Regions from separate parts of the Homo sapiens genome. Here all the other regions are linked to region 2. Evidence: fine-mapped expression QTL. A gene starts in region 2. Each other region holds a variant in brackets. All regions are shown on one strand. Distances are between the middles of the regions.

Region 1 (5,836 bases), 130 kb before region 2:
TTTTTTTTGGGACAGGGTTTTGCTGTGTTACCCAGGTTAGAGTGGAGTCATATGATCACGGCTCATTGCAGCCTTGATCACCTGGGCTCAATCGATCCTCCTACCTCAGCCTCCTGAGTAGCTGGGACAACAGGCATGTGCCACCATGCCTGGCTAATTTTTGTGTTTTATACAGACAGGATTTCACCATGTTGCCCAGGCTGGTCATGAACTCCTGGGCTCAGGTGATCCTCCCACTTCGGCCTTGTGCCTGGCCTGCAGTATAGCTTTTTAAAGAATTGATTGATTTGATTACATTTGGTTTGCTAGTTAAAAAATCCAGACAGATTGGCCGGGTGCAGTGGCTCACGCCTGTAATCCCAGCACTTTGGGAGGCCGAGGCGGTTGGATCACGAGGTCAGGAGGTCGAGACCATCCTGGCTAACATGATGAAACCCCGTTTCTACTAAAAAAAAAAAATACAAAAAATTAGCTGGGCATGGTGGTGGACGCCTGTAGTCCCAGCTACTCGGGAGGCTGAGGCAGGAGAATGGCGTTAACCCAGGAGGCGGAGCTTGCAGTGAGCCAAGACTGCGCCACTGCACTCCAGCCTGGGAGACAGCGAGACTCCATCTCAAAAAAAAAGAATTCAAGACAGATTTTGGCTGGGTGCGGTGGCTCAAGCTTGTAATCCCAGCACTTTGGGAGGCCGAGGCGGGTGGATCATGAGGTCAGGAGATTGAGACCATCCTGGCTAACATGGTGAAACCCTGTCTCTACTAAAAATATAAAAAATAAGCTGGGCATGGTTGCAGTGCCTGTAGTCCCAGCTACTCGGGAGGCTGAGGCAGGAGAATGGTGTGAACCTGGGAGGCGGAGCTTGCAGTGAGCTGAGATCGCGCCACTGCCCTCCACCCTGGTTGACAGAGCAAGACCCCTGTCTCAAAAAAAAAAAACCAAGACAGATTTCAAATTAGTTTTGTTTTAGTATCTGCTTTCCTAAAACCACCTGGCCCCAGATGAGTTTTCAAAGCATTTTACTTTCTGTAATACTTAGTGGTTTCAACAAAATATACAAGGATAGAAATTGCAGTGTTGGTTAGCTGAGTGATGGCCTCAGCTCAAAAACTCCAGTAGTGGATAGGCACAGTTGCTCATGCCTGTAATTGCAGCACTTTGGGAGGCTGAGGTGGGAGGATCACTTGAGACTAGGAGTTTGACACCAGCTTGGGCAACATAGGGAGACCCCATCTCTACAAAAATTTTTGAAAATTAGCTGGGCTTGGTGGTGTGTGCCTATAGTCCCAGATACTTGGGTGGCTGAAGTGGGAGGTCACCTGAGTCCAGGACTTTGAGGCTGCAGTGAGCTGTGATCATACCACCACACTCCAGCCTGGGAGATAGCACAACCCTCTCTCAAAAAACAAACCTAAACACAAAACCCCAATAGTGAGACTACCCTAGTGGGTGTGTAGAAAAAATGCTTTTTTTTTCTGGAAGGAATTGGAACCTCAATTTTTAAGTTGACTTGAGTTGGCACTGAGAGAGTTGATGATGTGAATTAAATTTGTTATGCCGTTTGCTGGTGCGGTGGGTGGCTCACGCCTGTAATCCCAGTGCTTTGGGAGGCCAAGGCAGGCAGATCACCTGAGGTCAGGAGTTCGAGACCAGCCTGGGAAATGTGGTGAAACCCCGTCTCTACTAAAAATACAAAAAATTAGCTGGGCGTGGTGGTGGGTGCCTGTAATCCCAGCTACTCGGGAGGCTGAGGCAGGAGACTTCCCTGAGCCTGGGAGGCAGAGGTTGAAATGAGCCGAGATCATGCTACTGCACTCCAGCCTGGGCGACAGGACGAGATTCTGTCTCAAGGAAAAAAAAAAAATTGTTATGCTTTTAGAGGATCTGTGCATGTTAGCAATGTTCTTACATTTTGATGGTTTTCATATATTTTTTGCTGCTATATTATGGAGGCTAATGATCAGAAAGCATTTTTCCGACTCCGGTTTTACTGTCTTCAGGTAGTTCTCTACACACTGCCTTGTCTTTCTAAAATACAGATGTCCTATGTGTCCCCAGTCTTCAGGGGGTGACTCTCACTGCCCATTGGGGTTCAAGACGAGTCTCTCACTGGCTTTCTGACTCTCACTGCACTACTTGTTTTGCCCTCATCTCAGTTACTCAGCTCATCTCTTTCTGCCATGTTTTTCCTCTGGGCCTTTGTGTGGTCAATTTTTGTTCCTTTCTTCTGCCCATGTGCCCCCTTACCCCATGTGTTTGGGGGATAGGCATGCTTTCCCTCTTCCTTCCTTCTGCCAGGTCTCAGCTTGGGCCCCACACTGAATGCTGTGCCTGACTCCTGCCTGTTTTGGGAGGCTCTTGTCTTTTCCATCGTCACCCACTCCCATTCTCATTCTGTTCCAGCCACACGGGCCTCTTGCCTGCTCTGAAGCCCTGCAGCTCTGCTGCCTCCGACTAGTGCCCTTGTTCCTTCTTTGACCTGGAATGCTGTCCCCAGGTATCTGTGTGGCTTACCCCTCACCCTCCTTCAGGTCTTTGTGCTTCTCCCTCTCGGGCACCTTCTCTGACCACTGATTTAAAGTACTCTGTTGTGACCAGGTACTATTACAGTTTATCTGTGATCCTGGTGCTTTATGAAGCCAAGACGAGAGGATCACTCCAGCCCAGGAGTTTGAGGTTGCAGGGAACCACGATTATGCCACTGCATTCCAGACTGGGTGGCAGTAAGACTCTGTCCCAAAAGAAAAATAAAATTTAAAAAAAGTATTATATATATACACACACACTTCTGAGACGGAGTCTAACTCTGTCACCCAGGCTGGAGTGCAGTGGCACAATCTAGGCTCACCACAACCTCTGCTTCCTGGGTTCAAGCGGTTCTCCTGCCTCAGCCTCCCAAGTAGCTGGGATTACGGGTGTGTGCCACCATGCCCGGCTGATATATATATATATATATATATATATTTTTTTTTTTTTTTTTTTTTTTTTTTTTTTTTGTATTTTTAGTAGAGACTAGGCCATGTTGGCCAGGCTGGTCTCGAACTCCTGACCTCAAGTGATCTGCCTGTCTTGGCCTCCCAAAGTGTTCGGATTACAGGCGTAAGCCACCATGCCTGGCCAAAAAAACTTTTTTTAATTATTCTGTTGCTATCTGGCACTCCACATCTGCCTTAGATTTTCTCCATAGCACATACCTCCAACATTCCATGTGAATTCCTG[G/A]CTGCATTGGGTCATCTGTGAAGGCAGGGACTTTTTTCCTTTTGCTTGGCTTGCTGTCATGTCCTCAGCACCTGGAATGGTACCTGAGTGACTGTCAGGCATTCAGTGACTATTTGAATACATACACAGCCCTCAGTACTTCGTATGCCTTAGGGGGCATAATATGTCCCAGAAATGGTGTGAATGAAGGGGAGTGGTGTGAGCATTTTGCCTTGATGTGGAGTTGGAAAGGTGGAGGGCCATGGGCTGGTGGCAGAGGTCACAGAAGAGCCTTATGCACCATTAGCAGGGCTGGAGAACTGTGACTTAACCAATGCACAGGAGGCAAGGCTGGGAAGGTGTGGACAGGTGGGAGAGAATGAGCAGAGGCAGCATTGCCCGGACTGGGCCATAGCGTGAGAGTGGTGCAGGAGAGGGTCCTTGGTCCAATCCTTACAGATGGAAAGATTGGGTAGTTGCTGGTACTGTTACCTCTCTGTGAACCAGGGGAAGGGAAAGTGGGCCTCGCTTCTGACCTACCTTATTTCCTTCCAGAAGGAAGCTCTGATCTCACCTACCTGCCTAAAAATGTGTCTCTGGAGCTTCACTGTTTGCTTAGAAGAGAAAGCCCTAGATCTTGAGCATGGCATGTGGTTCCTGCCTGTCTTTCCTTTATGTATCTATGTGTATATATGTAAATATATACAACACTTTTTAAAATTATTTTATTTTATTTTATTTTATTTTTTTGAGACGGAGTCTCGCTCTGTCACCCAGGCTGGAGTGCAGTGGAGTGATCTCAGCTCGCTGCAAGCTCCGCCTCCTGGGTTCACACCATTCTCCTGCCTCAGCCTCCCAAGTAGCTGGGACTACAGGCGCCCGCCACCATGCCCGGCTAATTTTTTTGTATTTTTAGTAGAGACGGGGTTTCACCGTGTTAGCCAGGATGGTCTCAATCTCCTGACCTTGTGATCCGCCCGCCTCGGCCTCCCAAAATGCTGGGATTACAGGCTTGAGCCACCGCGCCTGGCCTACACACATTTTTTAAAAAATGTGTATTTTTTCTTTCCTCTGTGACTCTGGCCAGTGATCCTGCCTGTCTTTCTAGCATCTTTGCTGGCCAGTCCTTTGTGGTTGCTGTGAGATCTCATCATGCTGCCTGTAGCTCTTGTGATGAGCCGTGCCCTGTCCCATGGATCTTTGCATGTGCTGTTGCTTCTTCCTGAGTTGCCTAATTTTGTGTTGCTGTGGTGGTTTTATGGCTCACCTCTCATCTCTGTGAAGCCTTTCCCTATTTCTACCAGAACCGGGTGTTGCAGACCCTGGGCCCATGGCACTTGTGTGTGTGTGTGTGTGTGTGTGTGTGTGTGTGTTTTCTCCCAAGTTTGTCATGCCTTTGTGAGTACTGGGCCCTCTTATGACAGTTAGCATGTTGCACAGGCTCTTGCCCCATTCTCTTCTCCAGGTTGTGAATTTTTCAAGGTGAGGGCCCTTTGATATGTCTTCAGTGCCTAAATGTGGAAAGCACTTAGTTAACAAGTAGAGATAGTTTTTGGGTATTATTCTGTTTTCCTAATGATTTTTATTTCATAAAAATGTGAATTTCTAGATTTTTGGTTAAAATATGTGTTAGAAATAGGAGGCTTCTGTGTTCTTTCCCCTCCAAAATTCGGAGTTGGTGTAATCTTTGTAGAGCCTTGCTACACAAATCTTTCAGCAGCAAAGCATCTTCTTCTCATTGAATCCTCACAGCAGGAAATTGAATCCCAAAGATGTCAAGTAACTGATCCAAAGTCACAAGGCTGTATGTGATGAAGTTAGAACTCCTGCAGGGCCTGACCTCTGATTCTGTACCCTGGGAACTTACTTTGTTTTGCCTCTTGGAAAACTAACATACAGCAGTCTATATGTGCATGGAAGACTGAGCCATTATATTTCTGCCAGTCAGTGTGGCAGTGTACTTCTGCCTGATATTTCTTCATTCATTGAGTATCAGTTGTGTGCCAATGATGAGCCAAGACCTATGTCCTCGTTCCCATGGGTTTTATAGGCCTGTAATGGGATGAAATGGGGAGGGACAGTGAGCAAAGGTCATATCTTTGAAAAATCTGTGAAATACTCCTGCCAAAAAAAAAAAAAATCAAACCTGAGTCCAGTCAAGCTCCTATGTTTAACAACCAATCTACAGGAAATACAGGGGCAAGAGAAATACTACAGAGTTGCCATTGGCAACACTGAGAAATGTGGGAAACTATAAGACCAGTAAGCCATACTCATCAACAGGGAAAAATGAAGGGGACTGATGACAAGAGACTGGAGGAACATGGACTAATTTTTATTGTAGGGCTTATCTGTGTTTGTGTCAGATCAGTTTGTTAGAGAAACAGCTGAATATCATTTGTGATATTTGAGACAGAATTTGGAACACTGATTATATTTATTATTGAGGAATTATTTTTATTTTTAGCTGTGATAGTGGGTTTGTTATGTTTAGTAATTCCTCCCTTTTAGAGGTGCATACAGACATTTACTGATGAAATGGTACATCATCTAGGGTTTGTGTCATGATCCTATGGGAGAGGGAGTAGGTTATTTGTGGTTACATCAGGACTTCAGGGCTGGTCTAGGTTGAGAGTGGTAT
Region 2 (5,836 bases):
CGGAGAAAGATACAGTGGGAGGGTTTGCTCCGTCCGCTAACAAGGCTTATAAATAAAGTGACAAGAACCGACTTAGTGGGTTATTAGCACATCGATATGTAAATGACCAAAAGAACAGAGCACAGCCCAGAAACACATCCACAGCAGAAGCTGCAGTGCAGATCAATGGAAAAGGACAGTCATTTCAATCAACGTTGGGTGCTGGACTAATTGCACATCCATGTGGAAAATTAGACTCCCTGCTTCACACAATCATCAATTCCACGCAGACTGAAGATTCAAGTGCGAAAGGTAAAACTGTACAGCTACGCCAAGATAACCCAGGGAGTGTTCCGGGCATGTCCCTCGGGGAGACACAATAGGCACCAATGATAGTGGGCGGATGAATACACCATCTATGTTAAAACTAGGAGCTTCTATTCATCCATGATTCCAGGAAAAGGGCTGGGCGCACAGATCACACCTGTAATCCCAACACTATGGGAGGCCAAGGCAGGAGGATCACTTGAGGCTAGGAGTTCAAGACCAGCCTGGGCAATACAGTAAGACCCCCATCTCCATACACATGCACAAAAATTAGCCAGGCGTGGTGGCAGCGCATCAGTCCCAGCTACTACAGAGGTTTAGGAGGGAGGACTGCTTAAGCCCAGGAGTTCAAGGTTAAAGTGAGCTATGATTATACCACTAGACTCTAGCCTGGGTGACAGAGTGAGACGCTGTCTCAAAAAAAAAAAAAAAAAAAAAAAAAAGGATTCCAGGAAGCTAAGTCAAAGTCAAAGGACAACTGGGAGATATTTGTAACTGAAAAAGGACTGATATCTAGCATTTATAATAAATAATAAAAAAGACACTCTTACAAAACAATGGGAAAAAAGAGAATTTAAAAGCAGATTTGAATATACAATTCTCAAAGCAGAAAACCAAACAGCAGGCCGAGTGCCATGGCTCACACCTGTAATCCCAGCCCTTCAGGAGGCTGAGGCAAGCAGATTGCTTGAGGTCAGGAGTTCAAGACCAGCCTGGGCAGCATGGTGAAACCCTGTAGTCCCAGCTACTCAGGAGGCTGAGATGGGAAGATCTGAGGTGAGGAGGTCAAGGCTGCAGTGAGTCACGATGGTGCCACTGCACTCCAGCCTGGTTGACAGCGCCAGACCCTGTCTCAAACAAAACACAAACACAAAAACAAAACACTCTGAAAAATAATTTGGCATGATCCTATGATCCTCACAATTCCACTCCTAGATGTTATACCCTAGAGAAATCCAAGATTCCAAACACCTGAACATATGACCGTAATGTAGTAACGGGATGATTTACAAGAGCACAAAAGCTAAGCGTGTCACTGTGGCAGAATGGATAAAGTGCCTCGTGCTCACAGACAGGAATACCACGCAGCAGTGAAAATTAAACTGCAGTCAGCTGCAACGTGGATGAAACTGTCACGGCGTCGACCAAAAAGACACATGCACGCCACACACAAAATACACTATGATACCATCACACTAACTCCAAATCCGGCAACCAAGCTGTGCCATTTAGGGGTGCATAAATAATTGCTCACACCGGGGAGATGGCACAGAAATGATTACCTTTCCAAAATGAGGAAGGGGAAAGGAAGAAGGCCGTGATTACCAGTGGGAGGCTTCCAAGGAACAGGCATGGTTCTACTTCTCCACCTGTGTAAGGATCACAGGAGTGGCTCGCGATGCTATTATTATTCGTTAAACTGAACAAAAATGCACTTTTCCATACATGTCATATCTCAATCAAAAGCAATTACAACCTATAATAGCTAATAATACATCAGTAGCCAGGAACGTTTAAACAACCATGGGGCTTCAATAGTCTGCAAAACTACTCGGTTTATTTCGCACGGAAAGCGATACAATATAAAGTTTAGGAAAAAAGAAAACAAACCTCACACACCCACTTATTGGAATGACGCAAAACGGCGTGTAGAAAAGAGTAAAACGGACACAGAGCGCTCCGGACGGCCGGGGTCTTTGCGAGGTGAGAACAAGAAAATCCAGTCAGCGGACACTGGAGCTACCGAGCCCAGGCCGCCCCTTCCTCACGCGGGGGTTTCTCTCGGGATCCCCGCCCTCGCCCAGGTCACCAGGGCTGCGTCCCCGACGGGAAACCCCGATGGGAGACCCCGCTGGGGCCGGCGCACCCCCGCTCCAAGAGTCGGTCGCTTCGGCACGGTGGGGGATTAGGGTGGTGAGGACCGAAGGCGGGGGAGGCGGGGGCGGGTGGGGATGAGTACCCGGGGGCCCAGGGAGGGGAGTGAGGACCTGGGGGTCGTAGCGAGAACCCGGGGCCCGGCGGGGAGGAGATTGAGGATCCCAGGGGAGGTGAAAACTTGGGTAGGGGTGAGGACGAAAAGTAGGGAGGTGAGGACCCTAGTGGGGGATTCCCAGGGGGCGAGGAGGGGCGGGGGGTCCTGAAGACCCACGGTGGGGATGAGAACCGAGGTGGGAGATGAGGATCGAGGCGGGGGATGAGGACCCAGGGGGAGGTGAGGACTGGAGGGAGGTATTCGGAGGAGCGAGGAGGGGGCGTGAGGGCGGGCCGGGGGGGTTAACAGTCTGAAGGGGGATGGGAAGGTTGGGGGAGGGAGCGAGGAGGGTCCGGAGTTGGGTGTGCGGGTCGGAGGTGGGAAGGTTGGGAATCTGGGGGCCGCGGGGCGCCACGCCTGCCTTACCTCGTCCACCGTGCGGCGCGGGAGGTGCAGCGTCCCGAGTAGCAACTTGAGCTTCACTGCCGACGAGAGGCCATGGAAGCAGAGACGGATGTTGTCGATGACCGCGGCCGTGAGCAGGGACGCGATGCTGGGCGGCGCCCACAGCTCGTCCGTGGCCCCCAGCTTGTTGTGCAGCCACAGGCCCGTGTCGCTCTCCCGCATGGACGCCATCTTGGGGGAAAGCGCGCGCCGCTGCCCCGGCATCTTATGAAGACACCTACGCGTCCCTCGCTAGGACCCCAACATGGCGGCGCCCGTCGGGCTGCGGGCCGCAGAGGCGGCGCAGGTGGCGCGGTCCCACGAGCGGGGCTTCCCGGGAGAGCGCTTCTGGGTGGCGACCGCGTCTCCGGGTAGCGGCCGCGTCTTCGGGAAGCTTTGTGGCAAAGCCGAGAGCCGGAAGGACGGGGTGCCGCTGAGCAAGGACTATCGGCTTCCGTAAAACATCATGGCGGCGCCCTCTGCTGGCTCTCGGGAAGACCGCAAAAAATGACGTCACGAGCAGGCGCGCGTATTCGCGTCTTGGGAGCCCGGGCTGCGGCCTGGCATTCGCAGTGCAGGTGTCAAGCGCCGCAGACTTGCTGCTCGCGCGGTGGGGCGGAGGCTCCCTGTGGCACCTGCCCCGCTGTCCGCTCTTCGCTTTTTCCCCGCTTGGGTCTCGGCGCGGACCGTGTGGACGCCCCGCCCCCGCGGGCCCAGCACCTGCACGGAGAGGAGCCGCGGCCCTGCGGAGCGAGCCTGCGGGATCCCGGTCGCAGCGCTGAGCTTCCGTCCCCCGCTGAGCCCGCTCTGCCCGTGGCGCGCCGCCGACGGGGCTGCGCTGAGCATGCGGGTCGGAGGGCGCTCGGGAGCTGTCCAGGGGCACTCGTGACCCCACAGTGCAGGGAGGCCCCGGCCCCCAGTCGGGCTGGAGCCGCCAGGCAGGAGCCAGTAGTGAACTTTTCAGTTTTAAAAGCTTGTCATTAGATACAAACATGAGTAAAAGTTAAACTTCATTTTATTAAATTCGTTTTACCCTTTTGTCTTTTTGACGAGGCCTTCCTATGTTGGCCAGGCTGGTCTCAAACTCCTGGGCTCAAGCGATCCGCCCGCCCGCCTCTGCCTCCCAGAGTGCTGGGGTTACAGGTCGGGGCCGCCTTGCTTGGCTTCTGTATTATATCTTTTTTTTAAAAGATCTTTTCCTTATTGTTCCACTGCCATGCTCCTGCCGCCGTTCACAGCTATTGCCACTGGGCGGTGGGAACGCCGGGAGAACAGGGCTCAGCCCAGCTGCTAGCAGTGCCCTGGCCCTGGCGGCTTGAACTTGGCAGTCCTGCGGAAGTCACACGGGGGAAACCCGCAAATGCTACAAATCAGTGCTGGAGCGGTGGTTTTGTTGATTGCTTAAACTGAAGAAAGTGATAGAGAAAATGTTGATGATAAAGATTAAACTTAAAACTGTCATGTCGACAACCGTTACATTGCAAATAGCACATAAAATTTAAGAGAATATTTTTTAAATGATTCAAAAGTGTCGAATTCAGCAAAGACAAGTTATTGACTAATGGGTGAAGTTGTGACATCAGTGGGGCTAGTGCTGAAAGAAGTTTAATGATTAGGCCGGTCACGGTGGCTCACGCCTGTAATCCCAGCACTTTGGGAGGCCAAGGCGGGCGGATCACCTGAGGTCGGGAGTTCGAGACCAGCCTGGCCAGCATGGAGAAACCTCGTCTCTACTAAAAATACAAAACTAGCCGGGCTTGGTGGCGCATGGCTTGCCTGTAAGCCCAGCTACTCGGGAGGCTGAGGCAGGAGAATGGCTTGAACCCGGGAGGCGGAGTCTGCGGTGAGCCGAGATTTTGCCATTGCACTCCAGCCTGGGCCACAAGAGCAAAACTCCCTCTCAAAAAAAAAAAAAAAAGTTTAATAATTATAATCTGAGGGTAAGAAATAGTTTAACAGTGGACGACATATCAAATTTAGTATGAGAAGAGTGAAAGTTACTTCAAGTTGTGAAATCATGATTGAACCGTAAACATTAGTTGGTTGAAATGAAAATTTTTGTTCACAGAAACCTGTGTGCAAACGTTTATAGCAGCTTTATTTATAATAGCCCCAAACTTGAAACAATCCGAATGATTCTGACCCCCAACTGTCTGTAGCTTTCTGTAGGATACGCAGCACTTTTCTGTATACAGTGCTTGATGCATCTTGAGTCTTCAGTTTTATGCAGGAAAAATCCAAGTTAACATCTGGCTTAACCAAGAAGACAAACCACTAGGAGGACTTAGTTACAGCATCAGAAAGCAATGGATTAATATTCAGAATGAAAAAAGGAATGCTTGTAAATCGACGAGAAAAAGACCGACAATAGACAAATGTGCAGAAGATAAGAATAGGCAATTCACAGCCTGGCCATCATAGTGAAACCCCGTTTCTACTAAAAATACGAAAACAGTGGGGCGTGGTGGTTCATGCCTGTCATCCCAGCTACTCAGGAGGCTGAGGCAGGAGAATCGCTTGAACCCAGGAGGCAGAGGTTGGAGGGAGCGGAAATCACACCACTGAACTCAGGCGTGGGCCACAGAGCGAGACTCTGTCTCAAAAAAAAAAAAAAAAAAAAAAGCAATTCGTAGGAGAAACCCAAATACCGGAGAAGCACATGGAGAGATGCTTAAATTCATCAGCAACCTGACAAACCCAAATTAAAATAACAAGATGCCTCATTACACCTATCAGATTGCAAAATTAGAAAGCCAAAGTTTTTTTCATTTTAAAACATGGTATCCAGTTGTTCCCATATTATTTGTCGAAATGACGATCCTTTCTGGACTTTTCTATCCTGACTTACTCATCTATCTTTATGCCAATACCAGACTGTCTTGGTTACTATAGCTTTCTAAAATAAGTGTTGAAATCAGGTAGTGTTAATTCTCTGACTTTTTTTTTTTTAAAGTTATTTGGGTTATTTTAGGTCCTCTGTATTTCCTTTTTTTTTTTTTTTTTTTTTTTTTTTTTTGAGGCAAGGTCTGGCTCTGTTGCCCAAGCTGGAGTGCAGTGATGCAATCTCAGCTTGCTTCAGCCTCTACCTCCTGCGTTCAAGTAATTCTCATGGCT
Region 3 (5,836 bases), 27 kb before region 2:
ATTTTTTTGTACTAATGTGAATTGTTCCTCAGAAACGCTTCTTTTCCATCCTAGTGAGAAGCTGGCCCTGCAGGTGGTGGCAGCAATGGTGTTGTAAGATTTCCTCCCGTAGTTTTTTCTCCTCATGGATTTGAATGAAATGCCAATAACACGTCCACTTTCAACGTGTAGTTTACGCGGAGCACTTTCGAGGCCTGGCCGGGTTGGGCCTACTTCTCACCTGGGCCTATCTTCTGAACTCGCTAGGTTCTTATCAACATTTGGGGGATAACTTTGTATATTTTTTTCATTTGGCTTTTCTTTACCAGTTTCTGATTTTTATTCTCAATATATTTTTGCTAAACCTATTTCACAAATCACCACCGACTGAAGTGTGTGTTTACTGATGCGGCCCTGAGCTCCATGGCGAAAGGAGTGACTTTGCAGGGCGTGAGACCGCAGTCTGCTTAGAGCACAGGAAGTGACAACTTAGGGAGCCCCGTAGGGCGCTGCAGGCCCCGGGGACCCCAGCACGTGGGTCTAAAGAGAGACGGAGTCTAGCTCTCCTGCCACCCAGAGTGGCTTCCATCTCAGCACTCTGTGGGTCTGGTGATGGAAGATGCAGTCTCTGCTGATCACATGTGCCCTCTGCCAGGGCACCTACTGAGAGGTGCGGTCCTGGGGGTGGAGGCCTGCCTGGCAGGTGTGCGTGCCTCGTACGTGTGTTATGGGCACTGGTCTAGGCCAGGTATGACACCCACTCTCCTGTGAGATTTCACTTTAGTTTTTAAAAGGTCCAGTTCTACAGAGTGAGACCTATCTATCTGAGTACTACATATGTTTTAAGACTTGGTTCTTTTTTTGAGGGATCCTTGACCCTGGGAAGTCTGGAGCACCCTGAGAAGGGGGCACCATGTGTGCCTTTGCCCACGTGTCCTGAGGGGCTGCTTGTCTGGGAGGGAGGGAGAGAACATTCAGCAGCAGGTGCTTTTTTATGGCCTTTTCTTAAAATAACCTAAGGGGGACACATCCATCTTGCAGAGAAGTTTACAGAACTCCCCTTGAAAACTGCTGCTGAGGCTCCTGTTAAATTTTCTGTGGCATCTTTTATGCCTTGGTAAAAACTGCAGTGTCTTTGGACCTGAGAGTGGCTACTCCGTGGTTTTGTGACCTGTAAGCGTGGGGTTCAGGGGTGTGTGGCCCTGCAGGGTCCCACGCCTCCCTGAGCACTGACTGGAAGTTTCACTGGCTGGTGGCTGTCCCTTCTCCCATCAGGGTCCCCAGCAAAGTTAACTACACAGAGGACCCAGGGGAAACGAGCTGTGTAGCCACTGACTTGCTCGCGCGGCCGTGGCCTCTGAGGGGCACTCGCCGGTTAAGACAGGGTGGGAGTAGTGCTTTCCAGTTCAGACTCTAACTTCTCCCAAAGTGTCCTAAGAAAATACTGGATCGGCTCATAGATTTATGCTCCTTATGATGCCCTAACTTGGAAGGTTGTTCTAGGGACAGGCCGGGCAGTGTCCCCACACACACCTTAGAGTCGAAGGCCCCAGGGCCCCGCTGTCACTTGCCCAAAAGATCCCTTCCGGCAGGTAAGGGACTACCAATGCTTACGTCAAAACAGCAGAATCGGCTTTGCAGTGCACTTTGGGGAGCAGATATTAACTTATTTTTGTGTTGGACAGTAGTGAAATCTTGTGATTTTTAATCGCTTTGATAATACTTCCAAATTTTATGATTTTTCTGAAGGAAATAATGCAAACATTTTAAATATGTTTCTCCCCCTTTCCAAAAACTGTTAAACTAATGAGCAAGTAACACTAACTTTGAATGTCTCTACAATACCCGTTGATAACTCAGTGGAGCCAGGCTTTGGGGTAGCGGCCCTGAGCTTGCAGGGTTTCTCGCCACTGGGGCTGACCACGCCCCCAGCTGTGACCGTGGGTGTGGCTGGCTCTCGGCCCTGCCCAGCTTTGTTCTGAGGACGTGGTGACTTCCTGAACATCAGCTTCAATCCTCCATCATTAATGTGAAGCAAAACACAAAAACCGCCCCAATCCCTCAGGATTCCTTGGCATCCGAAACCAGCATCTGCACCTAAACCCATACCCACCCGTGTGCGCCCACAGGGGGATGTGTCCGAATGGGCAGCTTAAAATGTGGTCACCTGTGGGGGAAACTCTTCAGGCACCTGAAGTGAGAACCCAGCTGTCCGTCCTCAGGCCGGCCTTTCTTCCGGCGACACCCGTCCATGGCTGGCTGGGTCCCCTTCGCAGTGTTTGTCTGTCTTGACATCTAAACCCCGGCGTGTGCAGTGCCCATCTTCCAGGACTACCTTATTTTCCAGAATTAAACCTGTTTTATAATTCAAGTTAATGCAAATGACTGTCAGTTGCCAAATATCTTGATCCTATGAGTGTAGTTGATGACTGTTTGTTAGTCAGTAGAGTAAAATGCTGTGTCCACGGGGTGTCACAGCCTCACCATACCCTGTTGAGGTGTGAAATGCCCCGTCAGAAATTAAATACAAACTTAAATGTGCCTATTGGTGTCTAAACTTCATACAATGTAAGGTCAGATTCCTTTTAGGAATACTGGGTGCTGTCACCAGGTTTGATAGTTAGACTTAAAAACTTGAAATTCACTTTTTGGGGGGAGGGATATACTGAAATAGAGAGTTGAGACTTGCCAGTTGGGGGAAAATAGCATTTAAAATGGAAAGCTGTGTTTGGAAAATTGTGTATGAGTATTTTTGTATTAAAAACATTTTAAAGGCTTTTTTCTTAACTTATTTTATATGGGATTGTTTGATTTTTTTTCCAGTTACTTTGAATTGCAAAGCATCGGGTGTGGCACTGATGCCTCCGATGGGTGGGGCTCCCTGTCCTGACTGTGTCATTTTGCCTTTGACCTGACCCGCTGGGGAGAGGCAGTGCCACCTTGGGAAGTATAACAACAAATACTGGAAATAGCAGGCATAACTGACTGACTTTGGAAAAATGCTTTCTTCTTCTTTCAGAAATAATTTGCTTCCCAAATTCCCATTAAGGGTGAAATGGTCTAGAGAGAAGGAAGCACTGCTGTCCCCCAGCCCTGCAGTCGGCTGAGCCGGGTGGTCCCCAGGCCCACAGCCAAGTAAGTCAAGGGAGTACCCCGAGGGCTGATCCTACCTGTTCCCCACCCTGTGGGCCAGGGTGTCCTAGGAAGCCCCCAGCCCTGGCCCACCCCGTCCTGATGGCCGCCTAGGGAGGGACTGGGTCCCCGGAGCAGGGAGGACAAGCTGGCCCCAAACACAGCTATGGTGGCTTTCTTTAGAAAAGCTCGACTTTAATGGTTCAGATAGTTTTACAATGAAAATAGGTACCCAAAG[A/ACTGT]CTGTCTTAAATGTCCACAACTATACAAAAGATGAATACAAAACTCCCAGGCAGGCACAGGCAGGGGACAAGGCCCACCGTCTCCCACGCTCTGGTGTGGTCGGGTGTCCCTGCCGCACCCCCAGTACCACCGTGCCACCTTGGTCCCCTCAACCCTGGGGGTAGGAGGGCACTGCCCCAGCGAGGGAAAATAGAAAAGATTTTAAAAAGTAAGAGTCTAACAGGCAGAGCTGTCACTAAAATTAGGAAGTTGTAACTTTTTTGGTTAATTTACTTACTACATTCAAAAATGTAACGTTGAGTCCAAAAAGTGTCTTAAATCACACAAAAAAGAACCCATATTAAAATTTTAAAAATAAGCCCCAAATACCCCAGAGAAATGCATCCAGAACTTAAAACAGGCTGGGTCAGCAGCAGGGCGGCGGCCGGGGGACCTCGGGGGCCAGGTGTCCGCCATCCGGTTACTTTAAGCTGGCAAAGCCATCGTCCCGTGGACCCCCACAAGTGACGGCCAGCTGTGAGGCAGGTGGTTCTAGGACACATTGGTCATGGGCTTGTACTTCTTGAAGCGCGTCCACTGGCCCGTGGCATAGTTCATCTCAAACACTGTGTCCACCAGCATGGTTGTGCTACCCTGGCCGTCCGCCTTGGGCAGGTCCTCCGTGTGCTCGCTCAGCTTGATCTGGATCACGTCCCCCTGCTCCTGGCACGGGTTCTCTGCAGAGAGCAGGAGCTGCTGGGTGGGTGTCTGGGGGCACCCGCCCCCAACCCGGCCCGGTGCACCCCCAGGCCCTGCCTTATGAACATACCTCGGGAGCCGGCCATGAAGCCCAGGATGAGGGCCTTCTCGGGCCGCGTGACTTTGTTGGCCGTCTTGAACATCTCCTGGGCAGCGAACATCTGCTCTCTCTACAGCGGGGAGAGGGGTGTGGGTGCCAGGGCCCCGCCAGGACCACCTCCTGCATCCCCCTGCAGGCACCGTGGCACCCCCACGCTAGGGGAGGTGGCCAGGGCCGTACCACCTACCTGGTGGCCTGTGGGCCCTACCAGTGTACACCTACCGTGAGGGACAGGTTCTTCTTAGGCTGCTGCTGAGCAGGGGCCTGGGTCTGCGGGGCCACCATGGCAACCGGGGGTGTCTGAGTGGTAGGGGCGACAGCCGGAGGTGTGGTGGGTGTCAGAGGCGAGGTGGGCGCCGCAGGCGTGGGTGTGGCAGGGCTCAGGCCGCTGTTGTACATGGGCGCCCGCTGCTTGAACTGCGCTGGCAACGTGGGGCTCGGGGCGCTGGGCTCCTCTGGTGGGCGGCTGGCTTCCCGGGAAGATGGGGCTGCAAGTAGACCGGGGCCTGGTGAGGGGGCTGGACCCCCACCCTGTTCCCAAACCCTAGTGCTCCTGGAGGTGACAGGCTCAGCTCCCCTTCTCTGTCCTGCTACCCTCTGACAAGAACTCCCTGTGGCCCCCAGCCAAGGCACAGGCCCCAGAAGCCCCAGCCAGAGGAACAAGGCCAGTGGTCTCAGGCCTTTCCAGACTCGCAGATAAGATGTCTGGACTCTGGCCAGCTGCTGGCCTGCAGCAGGTCCCCATACCGTAGGCACTGCTGGGAAGACAGGAAGGCTGTATCCTCAAGCCCCTTGGGCCCAGGACCTGGCCTGAGGTGCTGTGAGCCTGGCAGTGCCCTCCGTCTGGGAGGGGATGGCTCTCAGCTCCCCTCCCGCCTACCCAGCAACAAGAGCTGGGTCACCTGGCAGAAAACCCTTTCGAACCCAATCCCCTTCCTGCCGTGTCCCCTGGGGCCGCTGCCTGTCTGTGCCCAGGACGGGCAGGGTGGGGCAAAGCAGCTGGTTTATGTCTTGGAGCTCAAGCTGAACAGCGGGGCATCTGCCCCCAGCAGATTCTGGCTGAGGCAGAAGGGGGACAACAGAGATGCAGGAGTGAGAACCGCAGCCCTGGCAGCGCCCGTGGGCAAGGTCATGTCCTGGCAGGCAGCTTGGCTGGTTCCAGGCTGGGGCCAGCAGACTCACCTGGGGGCGTCTCGGAGCTGGGGATGTAGGAGGAGGCGGGAACCACGCTGGGCGTGGAGGGAAGGTAGCTCGTGGAGGGCAGCGCAGGCTCATTGTTCAGGGACCCAAGTTTCTGGAACACAGAGTTTAAGGTTCCTTCCAGAAGAGGCCATGCTTCCGGCATGTGCTAACACATGGCCCGACCCGGAGCTCCACTGCCACAGGCTGTGGCCCCCCGAGCTAGAGCAGGAAGGCGGGGGCCACTCTCCCGAGCTCCCTGGGCTAGACAACGGGACCCCTGGCCCCTGGCGCCCCAGCAGAGTTGGGGACTGAGCCGCTCCTGTGTAGGAGAGGGGAGGGGTTGAGGAGCCCAAACAGCCCATCTTGAGCACAGAAGGAGCGATGCTTTTTCTTACCACGAAGCGTTGATATAAAGGAAGATGCTCATGTTAAGAAACACAGAACACGCAGCGGCGGGAAGAAAGGA

Direction of the effects. Alleles are on the strand shown, and positions count from the first base shown. SD is a standard deviation of normalised expression in the study named. Not every link is listed here.
In carriers of allele G in region 1, the expression in subcutaneous fat of the gene that starts at base 2,929 in region 2 tends to be higher than with A alone (small effect, 0.15 SD a copy in GTEx).

The links. PIP is the estimated chance that this variant, and not a neighbour inherited with it, causes the effect.
Region 1: its variant is fine-mapped to the expression of NELFA in subcutaneous fat (GTEx, PIP above 0.99).
Region 3: its variant is fine-mapped to the expression of NELFA in whole blood (INTERVAL, PIP above 0.99).

The regions. Positions count from the first base shown.
Region 1 is chr4:1,875,292-1,881,127 of GRCh38, forward strand. All of the region lies in intron 1 of NSD2 (nuclear receptor binding SET domain protein 2), which reads left to right. Among named protein-coding and RNA genes, the nearest start is that of NSD2, 6.8 kb to the left of the region's middle. The variant G/A (reference allele first, on the strand shown) is at 3,217.
Region 2 is chr4:2,006,046-2,011,881 of GRCh38, forward strand. It overlaps NELFA (negative elongation factor complex member A), which reads right to left and starts at 2,929. Exons shown (of 11, transcript NM_005663.5): 1 at 2,705-2,929. The coding sequence starts at 2,914. It overlaps LOC124900839, which reads right to left. Exons shown (of 4, transcript XM_047416543.1): 4 at 2,961-4,128. The coding sequence starts at 3,716. The coding sequence ends at 2,961. RefSeq lists enhancers at 2,612-3,112, 2,720-3,239 and a silencer at 3,300-3,679.
Region 3 is chr4:1,979,438-1,985,273 of GRCh38, forward strand. NSD2 (nuclear receptor binding SET domain protein 2) reads left to right here. Exons shown (of 22, transcript NM_001042424.3): 22 at 1-2,755. NELFA (negative elongation factor complex member A) reads right to left here. Exons shown (of 11, transcript NM_005663.5): 8 at 5,371-5,482; 9 at 4,411-4,676; 10 at 4,159-4,258; 11 at 3,286-4,066. The coding sequence ends at 3,882. Among named protein-coding and RNA genes, the nearest start is that of MIR943, 4.1 kb to the right of the region's middle. The variant A/ACTGT (reference allele first, on the strand shown) is at 3,350.